Linked DNA regions of Homo sapiens: region 2 is linked to region 1. A link means that fine-mapping ties the variant in region 1 to the expression of a gene that starts in the linked region. Tissue or cell type: whole blood. Region 1 holds a variant in brackets; the other region holds the start of a gene. All regions are shown on one strand. Distances are between the middles of the regions.

Region 1 (8,102 bases):
GCTTCTTAGACCCTGCCAGTCTGAGACACAAAAACAATAGAAATCCATATTTGCCTGGCTCTGAACCACACCGCTGCAGCTCCCCCACCCCTAGAACCCCACCCAGCAGTTCCAGATGTCCCCACAAGGGCTCTCAAGTTCTCCAGAGAGGACAGTAGTCAGAGGCTCAGACAGGCAGGGACTCCAATGATGACTGGTGACGTGAGCCTCAGTTTCCTTATCTGTAAACTGCAAAATGTAAAATCTGAAAAGCGGAGATAAATCTCACTTCATGGTGTTGTTCTAAGGACTAAACGATCCAATATATGTAAAAGACCTAAGCCCAGTGCCAGGCATCTGGTAAGTAGTCAATAAATGCTACCCACCACTACTACCAGCCACCCCCATTACAGCCTCCTCATCAATACCCATCCCTGCTCCGGCTCGCCTCCCTCCCGACTCGGGCGTTCTCTCCATGCCTCAGATCCAGTCACCTCTCCCAAGGATCTCCTTGGTCTTCTCAGGAACCTGGCCAGCCTGCCCCAGCAGACATGCCCGGGCATGCCTCCCTCACCCTCAGCCTCATGCTGGGCTGCTGCCACGCAGATGCAGACACCCAGGGACACACAGGCAGAAACACCCCACTACAGTCTCGCTGCTCTCTGTCCTTGCCTGCCCCTCCCATGGGGCACACCCATCCCCAGGCTCCCAAGCTGGGGGACCAAGGCTCTGAAGAAACTAGCGCCTGGCAGGGATGGCACTGTGAAACCACAAGGCTGTTTAAGAGTCACGGTCACTGTCAGGGGGCCCACAGGAGAAGTCAGTAGTGAAAGCCAAACACAAAACACCCAGGATGAAATCAGGCAAATTGGAGAAAGTAGCTGGGGGCACAAGGACACTTGGGTGGAAGACAGAGGAAAGATGCGGGTCACATAGCAGCTTCCCCTAATTCCCACGCTCCTCCACCCCGCCTTGAAAATCTGGCATTGTCAACACAAAGCCGGAAAAACCCTGGAGGCAACAATCTCAAACCTGAGACTTAATAAATGCCAACTCTGTCATTTACAGAATGACCTTTGACAAGTCTCTCTTCTTCTGGGGGAACCACAATTTCCTCTTTTTTTTTTTTTTTTTTTTGAGACGGAGTTTCACTCTTGTCACCCAGGCTGGAGTGCAATGGCACGATCTCGGCTCACTGCAACCTCTGCCTCCTGGGTTCAAGCAATTCTCCTGCCTCAGCCTCCCAAGTAGCTGGGATTACAGGCATGCGCCACCACGCCAGCTAATTTTGTATTTTTAGTGGAGACGGGGTTTCTCCATGTTGGTCAGGCTGTTCTCGAACTCCCGACCTCAGGTGATCTGCCCGCCTTGGCCTCCCAAAGTGCTGAGATTACAGGCGTGAGCCACCACGCCCGGCCCACAATTTCCTCATTTCAAAACAGGAGAGCAGCCCAAATGGCATGAATATCTGCAGGCAGGCCCTGGCCGCTGCCCTTACCTCAGCTGCACTCATTAATTCACCTTCCCTGAGCGCCTGCTCTGTGCTGGGGGCCACTAGGCCTGGGAAGCAAAGGCTGAAGGCTGCTGGAGAAATCTGGTCTTAACCATTCCCACGCAGGCATGTGGGCAGGCAGTGCGGGCTGGGTGTGCAGAGAATGCACTGAATTCACCTACAGGGTCTGTCGCCTGAGCCTCTTGAAGGAACACAGGGAATTCAGGTAGAGAAGGCAGAGAGGACATTCCAGGAAGGGAAATGAAGGTGGGGAGGGAATGACAAGTGTGGGGTTTCTCAGGGTAGAAGAAGTTGTGAAGCGAGGGGTAGCAGGTGTGAGGCTGGAGGATTACGGCCATGTGCTCTCTCAGGAGCCTGTGGGAGGTGGGCGTATCCCATCCAGGCCAGGAGCCGCAGGAACCTGTCTGTGCCTTGGGTCAAGGTCATGCTGACTGCCTGAGCAGCAGGGGCCTGGTTGGGCGATCCCTGGAGAGGCAAGGGGCCAGCACAAGGTGGTGGCAGTGGGAACAAAGAGATGGAGAGGAGGGGAAATGGGGAGAAGCTGGCTCTCTGTAGAGAGTGCCACTGGCTCAGTCAGTTCAGGGATGCAAAGCAGACTCATTTTAAAGACCTGCTGTTCCCTTCTTCCCACTATACTCAGCAGCTTCAACCCCTCACTCCCTTGAATAAGACCAGCCTGTAATTAGCAAACCTCAGTAAACAAACCAGTGGTAGCGTCCTCAGCCCAGGCTGCAGGTTAGCCTCATATGGGGAGCTTGGGAACTTTTTAAATGCCAGTGTCCATGACCTTCCCCAGACCCAGGGAATCAGAACCTCTAGGGATGGGGGACTAGACTGCTGCATTTTTTTCAAGCTTCCAGGTAATTCTAATGTGCAGCCAGGGTTGAGACCTACTGGGCAGGCGTCTTTAGAATCGCTGGTTTCCTTAAGCTGATGATCTTCTAGTGCCTTAGTGAGGTGGGGATGCTGTCTCATCCAGGCCTTTGCTCCTGCTGTTCTCATTGCAGAGATCACTGTTGTCCCTTTCCCCCTGCCTGGGTCAGTTTCCTACCTACCTCAGGTCTCAGCTGAGGCAATATTTTCTCTGCAGAGGCACCCCCAAGCTCCCCAAATCTGGGTCATGGGCTGCTCCTATACTGTTCTTGCCTGTTTACGTGTCTGTACCTCCCAACTCTTACCTCTTCTGGGGTGGGGGGGATTTTAGCTTAGCTATCATTTATCCGACATGGAGTAGACACAATATACACACTTCTTGGGTGAGAAAATGAATGAATGAATCTTATTTACACTCCCATTTGCTTCTTCCTAGAATTGGAATTAATTCAAGTCCAAAATTTGAGTTCAAAAAGTTTTTCCCCTGTACCAGTAGAGTGTTTGAAAAGAGGAGGGAAGACCGGGTGTGGTGGCTCACACCTGTAATCCCAGCACTTTGGGAGGCCAAGGTTGGGTGGATCACCTGAGGTCAGGAGTTTGAGACCAGCCTGGCCCAACATGGTGAAACCCCGTCTCTACTAAAAATACAAAAATTAGGCTGGGCGCAGTGGCTCACACCTGTAATCCCAGCACTTTGGGAGGCCAAGGCAGGCAGATCACAAGGTCAGGAGATCGAGACCATCTGGCTAACACAGTGAAACCCCGTCTCTACTAAAAATACAAAAATTAGCCGGGCGTGGCAG[C/T]GTGTGCCTGTAGTCCCAGCTGCCGGGGAGGCTGAGGCAGGAGAATGGCGTGAACCCGGGAGGCGCAGCTTGCAGTGAGCCGAGCCACTGCACTCCAGCCTGGGCAACAGAGCAAGACTCTGTCTCAAAAAAAAAATACAAAAATTACCTGGGCGTGGTGGCAGGCGCCTGTAATCCCAGCTACTCGGGAGGCTGAGGCAGGAGAATGGTGTGAACCCAGGAGGCAGAGCTTGCAGTGAGTCGAGATTACGCCACTGCACTCCAGCCTGGGCAACAGAGTGAGACTCCATCTCAAAAAAAAAAAAAAGGAGGTGAACAGGTGGGTGGAGGGGACAGGATACTCACAGCCAGGACGGCCACTCCAGCAGCAGGAAGCTCCCTCCTCCATCTGCCAGGCAGTGCCTTTGCCATGGCCCCTTGAACCAAAATGTCTCCCCCTTCCCCTGCTGCCTCTGGATCCAGGCACGCTGTCACACCCACAAGGCCTGGAGCTTCGGAAGGATGGAAGAGGTTTTTCCGGGGAAACAGAGAGAAGGCCTTGCTGGGTCTGGGAGGGGGACTTACCCCCTCTAAGGAAATTCTTTATCAGCAACTTCCCTGAAGGTCTGAGGGACACCCCCACCCCTGGAGGCCTTGCACAGGGGAGCACCTGCAGACATGGCCTGCACAGTCGCAGTCTCTGACCCTCAGCACCAGCTGGTCACTGGGGCCCTGCAGCTCCCCGGGGCATCCAAGGTTCCAGTGCCACTGGGAGGTGCAGAATGTAAGGCCAAGAATCACAAAGGGTGAGCTCAGCACCTGGCGGGGTGGGAGGAGGGTGGGCAAGGAAGAAGCTGAACATGTTCCAGACAAGGTTTTAGGGTTGATTATCAGGGAGCCCCTGCTGTTCACTGTTGGCCCCCCCGAAGGTCCAGCAAACCACTGACAACCACCAGGTTCAAAATAAAAATCCACTCCCTCCTTCTTCTTCCCGTCCCCTCCCCGACTCAAAGGCACCTTCTCTCTGTGACTTCCCCATTTCTATAAATAACCCCTCCATCATCATTTCAGTCACTTTTGAATCCTCTCAGGCCCCGACTCTCACCCACTCATCCCCTGTCCCCACCCAGTGTCCCTGTAGATGCGGCCTCCTCACCACCCCTCCATCTTTGTGCCCCCACAGTGCTTTTCTGCCTCAGCCCTGCTGCTCTTTGTTCCCCTGCATTCCAACCCCTCAGGCCACTGCCAGGACAGGCCCACCCATGGGACTTCCCTCATCAAAACCATCATCAGACCCCACCCCTATAAAGAAAATACAGCCTCCCCGAGTGGCATTAAGACTTCATACAATGAACCAGGTGATGTGGCACAGGTCTGTAATCCCTGCTACTAGCAAGACTGAGGTGGGAGGATCACCGCATCCCAGGAGTTCAAGGCCAGCCTGGGCAACATAGTGAGACCTCATCTCAAATAAATAAATAAATAAATAAATAAATAAATAAATAAATAAATAAATGAATAAATGGAGAATGGAAAAAAAAAAAAGACTCCACAAATGGACAACATGCCTCCCTGGCCTGACTCTTCCAAACAGCACTCCACAATCTGCCCTTTTCTCAGATCCCAAAATAGGCCCTGTGCTTTGGTGCCTGCTATTTTCTCCATTTGGAAGAAATATCACCCTTCCAAGAGTCAATGTCCTGCTCATTCTTCAAGGCCTCCTCCATGCAACCCTCCCTGACACCCCCACCAGCTGTGCCCCTCCTCCACTGCACTCCTTCAGGCCCAGCCTTTGTTGACCCCTGGCCACAGTTTGGAGAGCAGTTTCGCCCCTTATTGGCTGTGTGATGGTGGGCAAGTCCCTTAGCCTCTCTGGGCCACGGCTTCTTCATCCTTCTCAAGGGTGCTGCAAGGACTGATTGGGACCACCTGCCGTGCAAAGCCCTGCACGTCGTAAGTGCTCGATACACAGCAGTTGCTGCAAGTCATCTCTAGCCCTTCTTCAGGTGGCTCAGCTGTGAGCCTGTCTGCAGATGCACACGAACAGACATCTCCCAAGATCTCTGCTTGCTGTCAGCTGTCCGCTGGCCACATCTGGTGACCTTGCTCAGGGATCTTCTGAGCCGCAGCCTGCCCTTCCTCAAGGTGAGCGTGCCCCGCTGGCAGCAATTGCTTCCCCCGTGGCCTGCCCTGCTCCCCATGGCTCCTCGGGGAGCATGTCTAAGGCACATTCTCCTCCAGAGCCCAGCAGGGCTGAACCACTGCAGGGACATTTTGAGGCAGGATGGAGCACCCCCACACCAGCACTGGAGCTGCAAAGTGCTTCCTAGAGCTGCCAGCCTGTGATCTTCAAGTGAACTTAATGGTGGAAGAAAAAAATCTTGACACTTGGTTGATGTTAAATGGACCTACATGCACTAAATCAGTCACACTCAACTTTCTCATGCCTAGTGTGCTCTCCCAGTGCCTCAGTCGTGCGTTCATTTGCAAAGATTTCCCACTTCAAGGACAGTACTTTCCAGATGGGACTGGAAGACAGACCCTGATAAGGCCTTATGCAGATGACTTGGCAGATTTTGGGCTAACCACACCTCAGGGCCAGAGTGTAGAGGGAGGGGGCCACTGCCTGGAAGAACTCAGCAGGGAGAGGAGCTCAACTCTGAGCGGGCTCCAGGAACAGAGCCAGGGAAAGGCAGGCATTCAACCCAAGTCCAGTCTGTATTGTCCTCAGCAGAGAAAATAGCCCATTCTCTGTGTCCTCTGTGACTACACCAAATGCAGACCGTGAGCCCAAATGAACATGGCACCAGAGAAGCACAAAGCCACATGCTTTTATTGTTATTCCTGTGTCTGCATCATTCATGCCACGCCATTGGGACCTGATGGAAGACACGGGATGTTCTGCCATCCGGCAGGGGACAGGTGCTTCAAAGCCTGTAAAATCCCAAACGTGACATTCTTTAAAGTCATGCCTCTAATGCCCTCAGTAATGCATTTTTACTCCCCAGGTGAACCCCATCAAAGGGGTATTAGTAGGAGACGTTTTCTTCCCACCCCTAGGGAGTCCGCAGTTGGTGCCTGCCATGACTGGGAACCAACCTGCATGGCCACTGGGCAGGGCCAGGCTGGGCCCCAGGCTGCTCTGCGGAAATTCACGCTGCAGGTCTCAGCCGCCCCTCCCTTTGACCCTCAGCCTGACCAGGGAAGGGCATCCGACCCACACACTCTCACTTCCTCTTTCCAAGAACAGAAATAAGGCACCAACTTAACACATTGTACTTGGAGAGAGTCTTGCACCCCTTTCAACTCCTGGACATCGTTCTTTCCTGAGTGCTTTTCTTCCCTCTTCTGCAGCACTCCCTTTCCTCTCCACACAGCATTCTGGTTCTGGCTTGCTCTCTCTGCTCTCTTCTCCCTTTGAGCTCTCGTACCCAGGATCCTAGAGCGTCCGTTCCTTCTGGGCTTTCTTTCTCCCCCCCATCTCTCATGTCTCCCTCCTCCTTTCCTCCTAAGTCCCAAGCCTAGAGTCCCCTCCACCTCTTTCCCAGGCCCTGCTCCCCTCTGTCTCAAACTCCTCCTTCTCCTCAATTCAGAAGAAAGCTGGCCAGAGAGATCTCCTGTCTCCTCCCCCTTCACTTCCCCTCCTCTCCCCGCAGGCACACAAAAGGGGACAGAGGCACCAGATGGCCCGGTGCTAAAAGAGGGGCTCAGGGAGGCTGCCGCCCACAGAGGCCCCTGCTGGGCCTTCAAGCTAGTCCAAGCTGCTGCCGGGCCCAGCCGCCCAGCTGGCAGAGGAGCAGGGCAGAGGACCAGCATCCCCAGTACGAGGCCAGCTCCCCCTGCCCGGCCTGCCCTGGGGCCAGCCTGGAGAGGGAGCACGCTTGCCAGCTGAAAAGCAGAGGGTGTCACCATGTGTCCAAGCCTCAAGCGCCAGGGGCAAGGGTCCGATGGCCCGTGGGGACACTGGGCTTCCTCAGGAAGAAGGAGAGGAGTGGCTGGCAGTCTGCTCTTTCTATGGAACAGGCTGTGCCAAGGAGGGGGCCTCAGCAATGGGTGAGCAGACCACAGGGGAGCCAACAATCCCCCAGTCCCCTCACAAAAAAGAAGATTTAATGACGCATTGGTTAATGTTAACAGCTACCATTCATTCAGTGGTTAGCTGGGCCAGGCATTATGCTAAGTCATTTCCTATAACATCCCTAATCCTTCAAGAGTTCTGCAGGGTAAACATTTTGATCCCTATTGTACAGACAAGAAAACTGAGGCTAAGAGAGGTTAAATGACTTCCCCAGGCATCATAGCTGGAAAGTCAGTTAACACAGTTTATTCCAGGGTTCAAGCGATCCTCCCACCTCAGCCCCACAAGTGATTAGGTCTATAGGCACGCACCACCCTGCCCATAGTGAGACAGGATCTTACTGTGTTGCCCAGGCTGAGCTCAAATGACCCCCCCAGCCCCACCACAACCACCACCTTGGCCTCTCAAAATGCTGGGATTACAGATATGAGTCACGGTGCCCGGCCTAGTTAATACAGTTTAAAGTTTCTTTTCCAGTTAAGATTCTGTAAGTCCTGCTAAGGTGGTGTTGCAAAAGCAGGCACCTAACAATGTCCCCACTAAGGCCTTCAATAAAGCCACAGGCAGGCCAGGCGCGGTGGCTCATGCCTGTAATCCCAGCACTTTGGGTGGCCAAGGCAGGCAAATCACATAAGTTCAGGAGTTTGAGACCAGCCTGGCCAACATGGTAAAACCCCGTCTCTACTAAAAATACAAAAAAATTAGCTGAGTGTGGTGGCACATGCCTGTAATCCCAGCTACGCAGGAGGCTAAGGAAGGAGAATTGCTTGATCCTGGGAGGCAGAGGTTGCAGTGAGCCAAGATTCCACCACTGCACTCCAGCCTAGGCGACAGAACAAGACTCCATCTCAAAAAAAAAAAAAAAAAAAAAAAAGCC
Region 2 (8,102 bases), 180 kb after region 1:
CAGCACAGAGTTTCAACTGAGACAATGAGCTTGGGAGAACAGACAGACCAGAACAGAAAGGAATTGAGTCCTTCATTCCCCTGCTCACTGAAGTGCTGGCAAACAAGACTATTGTCCAAGCAAATTGGTAGTTGAGAGAGCCTGCCCTAAATTCTATGTGGGATGAGGTGATGAGGCTACGTAAGGCCCTTAAGGGCAGAGAGATCTTGATCATTCCATTTGCCATCATCATCCTCACTGATATTAATTTCTATGTGCCAGGCACTGTTCTAAGTACTTTGTCTGTACTAACACATAGAATTCTAAAAATGAGAAGTTTCCTCATCTATTACCTCAAATCTGCAGGTAAGGAAATTGGGACACAGAAAAGTCATTTTCCAAAGGTCACACAGGTGGTGAGAGGCAGAGCTGCTTACTGTGACCCTCATGCCTAGCACGGAATGTGCCATATCAGAGCTTGCTAAGTCCTTAGCTTGATTTCTCCCAGACGTAATAGCTACGGAGAAAAGGTGATGGCAAATAAACATACTGACCAGCCTCGCCAGAGAAACGAGTGCTTGGAGAGTTAGGGTTATATGTATCCTCTAATAAAAGTAGATCATCTCCCCTACCCGAGGGAGAAACATGGACTGTGTCGCTTTGGCAGAGGGACACAGTTTGCAAGGCTGAGGGGTCCAGTTCCACAGGTGGACAGTGACTCGATTCTACTCACGGCTTTGCTGTGCAGCAAAACTCATTTGCCATCATTGCAAAGGTCCCAAAATGTTAAAAGGCAAGACCTGAGGCAAAAATGAAACTCACAGGAAGGGAAGGCCTGTCCATGCCACCATAATAGGTCACTGTCCTAGAGGACAAATTTCAAATCAGTAAATGATCCTTGGCACCTCCAGATGCCAGCTGTATGCCCACCTGCCCAGGTGCTGCTACACGGAGCGTTAGCAGCAGCTGTTTGTGCAGGGGCAGGCTGAGCCTGAGCAAGCATCACCACAGATGCACCTCAGAGAGGGGGCAACGGGCTCCAGAAGCCAGTGTGGGCACGCACTTCCGATTCCAGCCTCTTTGGATGGTGTTTTCTCCCCACCTCCCTTCCCAGCCCACTTGCTCACATACCATCAGATGCTTTCTCCTGGCACAGTAAGATTGGCTGGCCTTCGATGAGGTCAGTAACTCTAAACTTCCTGAAAGTTTTATCTAAACAGTAGCCAATAGTTCTGGCCAATATTTGATGCAAATCTGATGTGTGGGGTAGGTCTTTGACCAAGGCTGTAGGGATGCCGTGAGGAGCAAAACATTTTCATTCAGTTCTCAACCCGACGAGGGAAATACTGTTGAGACCAATTTTACACCTGAAAACTGGGGCATGCAGCAATAAAGAAATTTGTCTAAGGCTACAACTAGTAAGTGGTAGAGACAGAATTGGAGCCCAGGTTGGCCTGGACCATACAAGGCCTCCATGAAGAGAAAACACACTGGCCTGACTTCAGTGGTGGCAAGCAGATGTCTCACTAAGCCATCCCTCTAACATGAGAAGTGGTAACATAAGGCTGAGGAGTGGGGAGAGGGGTCACAAAAGCGGTGCCAGTTAGTGGCAGATTAAAGCACTGAACTAGAAGTACCTGGGATAAAGCATGGATATCAGTTGCCTTGGACTTGACCGCATTTCAAGTCCACTGTAGGGTTCAAGAGATCTACTGGCTCAGGGTTTCACACAGGTCCGCCTTGCTGATAAATGTTTTGGAGCTTTTGTGTATTTGGCTGGAAATAAGCAAAAAGTAAATGAGCCAAACCCCTTACTGTATAAACCCAGAAAAGCCTGGAGACTTAGTCTGGGGAGCTCAGGATGAGAATGAAAATTGTGGCCTCTGAATGCCACTCCCATGGCTGCCAGCACCCCTTGTTCCTGAGTTAACACCAGAGCTGGATGGAGGCTGGTGAGCTTGGGGTCTTGGGGGGCATGGGGTCCTAGAGCTGGCTCTCCTGGGAGCCTTTCTGCTCCTTAGGTAGAGTGGGGCCTCCTGCCTTGGGGCTTCCATTGTAGCCCTGCACGCTGGCCTTTTTTCACAACCAAAGCTGTATCCATCCTGGGGATGAGGGTATCCTAAGGGCAGGACAGGCCCCTCCCCAGTGCCTGGCACTGGGCCAGAACCCTAAGGGCAGCTCCACACTGTGAGTAGGGGCCTGAGCCCAGACTGCAGAAGGACAAGACAAAGGCAGGCCCGGCAGGCAGCCTGGCAGCCACAGGAGAGCTCCGGATACCCTCCAGGACTGGCAGGGCAGCTGTTAAGCCCTGGCTCCATGGGCACATATCAGCGCCAGTCCCCGCAGCCCCTTTCCTCAGGGTCCAGCACTCCGACCTGGCCAACCCACAGCCAGAGAGCGCTGGGCAGAGCTTCTTGCCAAGGAAGGCTCTTGCCATTTCTAAGCAGGTGCTCTGGCTTTGTAGGAAAGAGGGAAACTTCTCTGCGGATATGTGGGGGAGGGAGGGAGAAAGGGGAAGGCCTGTTCATGCAGGTGCAGCAGGGCCTTTTGAGTCGCTCCAGAACTAGTCTGGGGACTTGGGGTGGGAAATGGGTTGGGTAGATGAACTAGGGAAGTCCACTTGTTGCCAGGTAAGTTTAGTGGAGGATAAACAAGCAATTCTACCTAAAGAGTCACAATAAAGAGCCCTTGGTACAAGATCCTATGGGATTTAAGGGGAGGAGCCGAAGTCAGCATGCAGTATCGGGAATGCTTCCAGAGACAGACACCTCTAATATTTTTGAAGGCTGCCACGGGGTTTGTGGGGGGACAGGGAAAAGGCATTCCAGCCAAGGCACATGCATAAAGCATGAGAGAGTAGGTGGGTGCATGGATGGGTGAAGTTGGGGCTAGTGGGATCCAGGAGCCAACAAACAAAGCTCCTGCCAATAATACCCACACAAGAATCCTGTGCCCAGAGGCAGTTTGGAAGACTAAGAAGTCCACAGTCGCATCATTGCCCTCCTCTCCTGGGTCATAGGCCTCTTCTTGGCACACCCGGAAAAGAGGTGGAAACAAACAGCTGCCCAGGACACCTGGGCATCTAGGATGGAGGCCTCTTCCCCACTACCCCAGGGGCCAGGCCATAGCCCTGAGGGTTTCTTCTGCCTCCCCGCAGAACAGAGCCATAACCCACTTTAAATTACAACTCGGTACACACTTGCAGAAGCATTTCTCAAAACCTAACCTACCCTTGGCTTGTATAAAGCACTCTAATTTTTATTTTAATTTAATGTTGGTCTCAACCCACAAAATTGCTTTTATAACCCATGAGTGAATTGTGCCTGCAGTTTGGAAACACTGCCCTGGAAAGGGATCTGCCTGCTCTTCTCCAGCCCCACTTCCCAGAAGAAAAACCAAAATGAGAGCCCCTGCGTCCTGGTGAAGGTCAGTGGCGGGCAGGCCAAGCAGGGCCTCCAGAGCTGCTCGAGGGCCTCCAAGGGAGGTGAGCTGCAGAGGGACCCAGGAGGGTGGAAGGATGCTGGCTGGAAGTCACAGAGGGCCAGGTTCAAATCCTGCCTCCGCTTTTGATTGGCTCCCAGACCTTGGATCTATCTGTGAATTAACCTTTGAGCCTCGGACTCCTCGTGCGTTAGCCTGGTATAATAGTCTCTCTCTCGCAGTGTTGCCGTATGGATTCAGGGTGATTTAATGACCTCAACAGAGCTCTGGAACATTTGCGTAGCTGGCAGGGCAAGGCGAGGGACAGCCCAACGAAGGCAGGTCCTTGAAGTCCTGGTTAACACTGGTTTCCAAAATTCGAGCCGGCCTGCGGTTTTTCCAGCACGCCTGAAAGCTGGGGACACTCATGCACCAGGTACTCATTCCTGCACACCCCGCCCCCGCCCCACGGACATGAGGGTCCATAGGTCGCCCCACTTCCTCCCCATCCCTCCGGCCAGCTCCAGCTCATCCTCCCAGTCTGGCTCGGCGCGCCGCCTCCACATCACCTTTCAGCAAGGCCCGGGACCGTGCGGTGCACCAGTAGGCCCCGTCCGCCTCCCCAGCCGTGCGTTTCTCAAAGGCAGGGTGAGCCCAGCAGTGTGTGTGCGTGTACGCGTGCGCGCGTGTGCTGGGGGCGGGGTTTGCAAAACTCCCGCGAGCCCGCCCTCCCTCCACCCTCAGGCTGCAGGCCCCCGCGGCTCTAACAGCCGGTGCCCTGCTGGACACACCCCGCCTCGCGGAAGCGGCCTTGGCACGAAGGCCCTGGCGACCCCCAGGCAGCGCAACGGGCCGCTCCCCTCTCACCCCCGCCCGCGCGAGGCCCCGCGGGAGGACGCGGACAGAGGCTGTTGGCTGTGCTGCCTGGCCCCACGCCTCCTGTCTGCGCGGCGGGAACACTCCGCGGGCGGCCGCGTGGCCGGGAAGGCGCGGCTGGCGCGGAGTCTGCGGGTGCAGAGCAAGCGGCCGCCCGCTGCCTGCCCTGGCCGGTGGGGACAGCCCGCCCTGCCAGGGAGACTTGGGGGGGCACCGGAGTCGCTGCGAGGTTGCCTCTAGTGGCCTGAGGGCGGGGCGGGCGCGGGGCAGCTGCTGAGGGCACAGTCGCCTCCTGGTCGCAGGGCCCGCGACAGACCCCGATTCTCCCTCCCGGGACACCGGGTGCCAGCTGCGGATATCTCTCGCCGCCGCTGCACCCCGCAGCGACAGAGGGGGGCCCCCGGGAAAGAGGGGAAAACCAGCCGCCGCCCGGGACGCTGGTTCTGCGGGTGGCTTCTGAAAATGCCCCCAAGCCCCGAGGAGACTGAGGTGCCTGAGGCAAAGGGGTGCCACTTTCTGCTCCGTGTAGTCCCAGTGTCAGGGGCCTTCTGTGAACCGCGGGAGGGACATAAGTTAGACACCGGGAATACCCACACCTTTGCATGTGGCTGCTTCGTTTCTGTGCCTGAGCCACTTGGCCCTTGCTGTAGCTTCCTACTCGTTTTACAAAGCCCTGCTTGTGCTCACCTGCCCGGTTGGCGCCCTTGCCAACTACCCGGCCAACCACGAATCACGGCCCCAGGCTGTCCACAGGCTACCCACAGGCTACACCGGCTGCAGCTCCTCTTGCAGCATACCCTGCATCCGGCGCTGTAATGTGTGTGTGCCTCCCCCTGGGCTGGGGCCCCTTGAGGCTGCGGGTCTTTCTTAAGTCCGGGGGCTCTTGCCTGGCCTAGGCCTGGTTCCTGGTTAATAAGCTCTCAGTAAGAAGGTTCTGATGGCCCAGGCACTATGGCTCAGGCCAGCACTTTGGGAGGCTGAGTCGGGCGGATCACATGAGGTCAGGAGTTCGAGACCAGCCTGGCCAACATAGTGAAACCCTGTCTCTACCAAAAATACAAAAATTAGCTAGACATAGTGGCAGGCGCCTGTAGTCCCAGCTACTTGGGAGGCTGGGGAAGGAGAATCACTTGAGCCCAGGAAGCGGAGGTTACAGTGAGCTGATACTGTGCCATTGCACTCCAAGCCTGGGCAACAGAGTGAGACACTGTCTCAAAAAAAAAAAAAAAAAAAAAAAAAAAAAGGTTCTGATGTTCCAGTGTGTGAGGCAGGGCTGCCCTAGGCCTTCGAGGTCAGCAGCTCCCCAGGCAGGCAGATGCAGGCAGTTGGGGAAGGTCAAACAGGAGGCTGGAGGAACCAAAGCCCCCTCCCATTTCCACACAAGGCAGGGCCTGCACATCAGGCTGCCCCAGGGAGAAGCTGGGATGCCAGCGCCTTTGCCTCCTTGGAATTAGGTCACCGTCCAGAGGCCTGGGAGCCTCCAGTGTCCCGCGTGCCTCGTGCCCCTCCCCTAGCACCAAGCCTTTTCTGGCATGGGGAGGCAGCTGCAGTGGGAAAAGTGGGCCCCAAGTCAGAGGGGCAGGATTGCATGCCCTGTCACTGCTGCTGAACTTGGTTCCCCATCTATGCAAAATGAAGACAATGAGCAGGACATACCTGGCAGGACTATTTAAGGACTAAGTATGTCACCAGCCCGGGAGGTGATACGCCTGAGGCCTTTTCCCGTCCTCCCAGCCCCAGCCACCCCCTTCCACCTCCTCCCACCTGGGAAGGCAAGTTGTCCTTTTCAGAGAAAAGTGGAGCTGTCTTTGGCCCCCAGGAGCTTTTCTCAACATGAAATTTCTCCAGTTTTGTGACCTTAGGCCAAGAATTGCAGTATAGGAGGAGCCAGGGTTTCTCCACACTTGAAGTTTCTTGCTGTGGGCTCATTTCTACACTTTGAAGAGTGCCAGTGCCCTCTTCACAGCCTGAAGCCCCAAGCACTTGTTCCTCTGGCCCCTCTGCTCACCTGCCAGATCCCCCTAATTCCTCCTCCACCCCCCTACCCCATTCTGTGAGCCATGGGGCTCAGCCCCTCCCTCTCCTCCCATGGGCATCATGAAGACAGGGTTCTACCTGGCTCCTGCTGCAAAGGCCCTGGGTGGGGGAACACACTCCCAACACTGCACAGGACTGCCTCCCCACCCCCACGACCTTGTCCCTGGGCCACAGGCCTGCTTCAGTGTTCTTGCCCAATGAAAGCTGCCCTGACACTCTTTTAAACCCGATTCTGCTGAGGGTTGGGTTTCTTGGTTCCAGGATTTTTTTTTTTTTTTAACCACAGCTGGCACCCTGGCCAGTTCTAAAACAGCCCTGAACTTCCTATTCCACTCCTCAGTTGTGCCCAGCTAGAGTCCCTTGGCTTCTTCTCTCCTGGTCATAAACCTTGTCCAGGGCTTTTCTTTTGCCAAAGGACGGTCTGGAGGCTTCTGCATCTACCCTGGCTGTCACCCTAACCCGTGGCCTCCCCAGCCTTTCCTCTGGCATGCCCACCACCAGCACCCCACTCCCTGGTCCTGCCCATGGCTAGTGAGGGTCAAGTGAGTGTCCAGCCGAGAATTTAGCAACTCAGAGTGAGAGAAGCTTTAGCTTTGCTTTTTAGTAAGTTAAGACTGACACATGGCCATCCACTCCCAAAGAGTCCCAGCCCTCCAGGCAGCACTGAGGCCCAGGCAGATGGCCCAGCCGCGCTCTGCAGCTTCCCTGCTGCCCACCCACCCACCTGCCCACCGACAGCACCGCCAGGAGGTCTGGGCAGAAAGCATGCAGCTGTGATGGCCAGGCACCTGCCGCAGCCCTGTCTCCAAGCTGGACAGAACTAAGATGGAGGCTGCCACAGGTCAGGTTGCAGCAACTCTTGCCTCCACCTGGGCAGAGGCAGCGGCCGGGGTGGCATGGGGCTGGTCTGGCCGGTCCCACTAGCTGGATCCTGGCTACCACAGTAGCACGTCCTGAAATTGGTCTTTGTTGTTGTTGTTGTTGTTTTCAACTTTATGTATAAAAAAATTTTCCTAGAAATTTTTAATATTCTGGCTACCAGATAACATCTCCCAGAATTCCCACACCCCGAAGGGGCATAAAACTCCTGCCAGACCACACGTTCTGATTTTGGTTTGGCATATATGGTCAATGGCTGTAAGGCTGGTATTCCGGGACACTTTGCCCATTTCTGGATAAAGGGCAAGGGCAGTGAATGGAGTAGGGAGGAACGTGGCTGAAATAGGGAAGGGTCAAGGCCAATATGGACATGTGCTTTCTTTGGTTCCACAGTGTTGGAGGCTGTAGCCTTTGACCAGGCATGGGACCAGGAGGTGAGGCCGGCTCTCAGGCATCAACCAAAGGATCCACTGAATCTCCCTTCTCCCCCTGCCAACAAAGGTACAAGTAGATGTTGACACCCCCTCAGACATGGAAGGAGACCCATTTTTTTCTTTTTCTAGTTCTGGATAAATGGCCTTAAACAAAATATGCAAACAGGCTCCTTGCGTCTCCCAAAGGCAGCCCACCACAGAAGCCCTGCCACAGCCCAAGGGGTTAGATGCTGCCAGGATCTGTTTCCGCCACAGAGCAGCTCTGTGCAGCACGTTCCTGCCAACCACCCTGAGTGCTTCAGGGCTTCCGAGGCCGTGACAGTGAGGGCAGCGGCACTTCTGGGTCACCGTGGGACAGGTCTCTGCCTCAGGACACGGATTGACAAGCTCTCTGAGTGGGCCAGGAGCTCCTTAATGTGAGCCAAGCCCAGCCCTGCCACCTTGGCCCCGTTCACCTCGAGGATCTCATCGCCCACC

The links. PIP is the estimated chance that this variant, and not a neighbour inherited with it, causes the effect.
Region 2: it holds the start of KIAA1614-AS1, and the variant in region 1 is fine-mapped to the expression of KIAA1614-AS1 in whole blood (INTERVAL, PIP above 0.99).

Annotation. Positions count from the first base shown.
Region 1 is chr1:181,127,586-181,135,687 of GRCh38, reverse strand. No RefSeq gene overlaps it. Among named protein-coding and RNA genes, the nearest start is that of LINC01732, 43 kb to the left of the region's middle. RefSeq lists enhancers at 44-627, 335-754, 1-1,121, 3,518-3,567, 3,598-3,777 and 3 more. The variant C/T (reference allele first, on the strand shown) is at 3,169.
Region 2 is chr1:180,950,401-180,958,502 of GRCh38, reverse strand. It overlaps KIAA1614-AS1 (KIAA1614 antisense RNA 1), which reads left to right and starts at 3,616. Exons shown (of 2, transcript NR_145481.1): 1 at 3,616-3,835; 2 at 7,585-8,102. KIAA1614 reads right to left here. Exons shown (of 9, transcript NM_020950.2): 9 at 6,889-8,102. RefSeq lists an enhancer at 3,381-3,986 and a silencer at 4,022-4,561.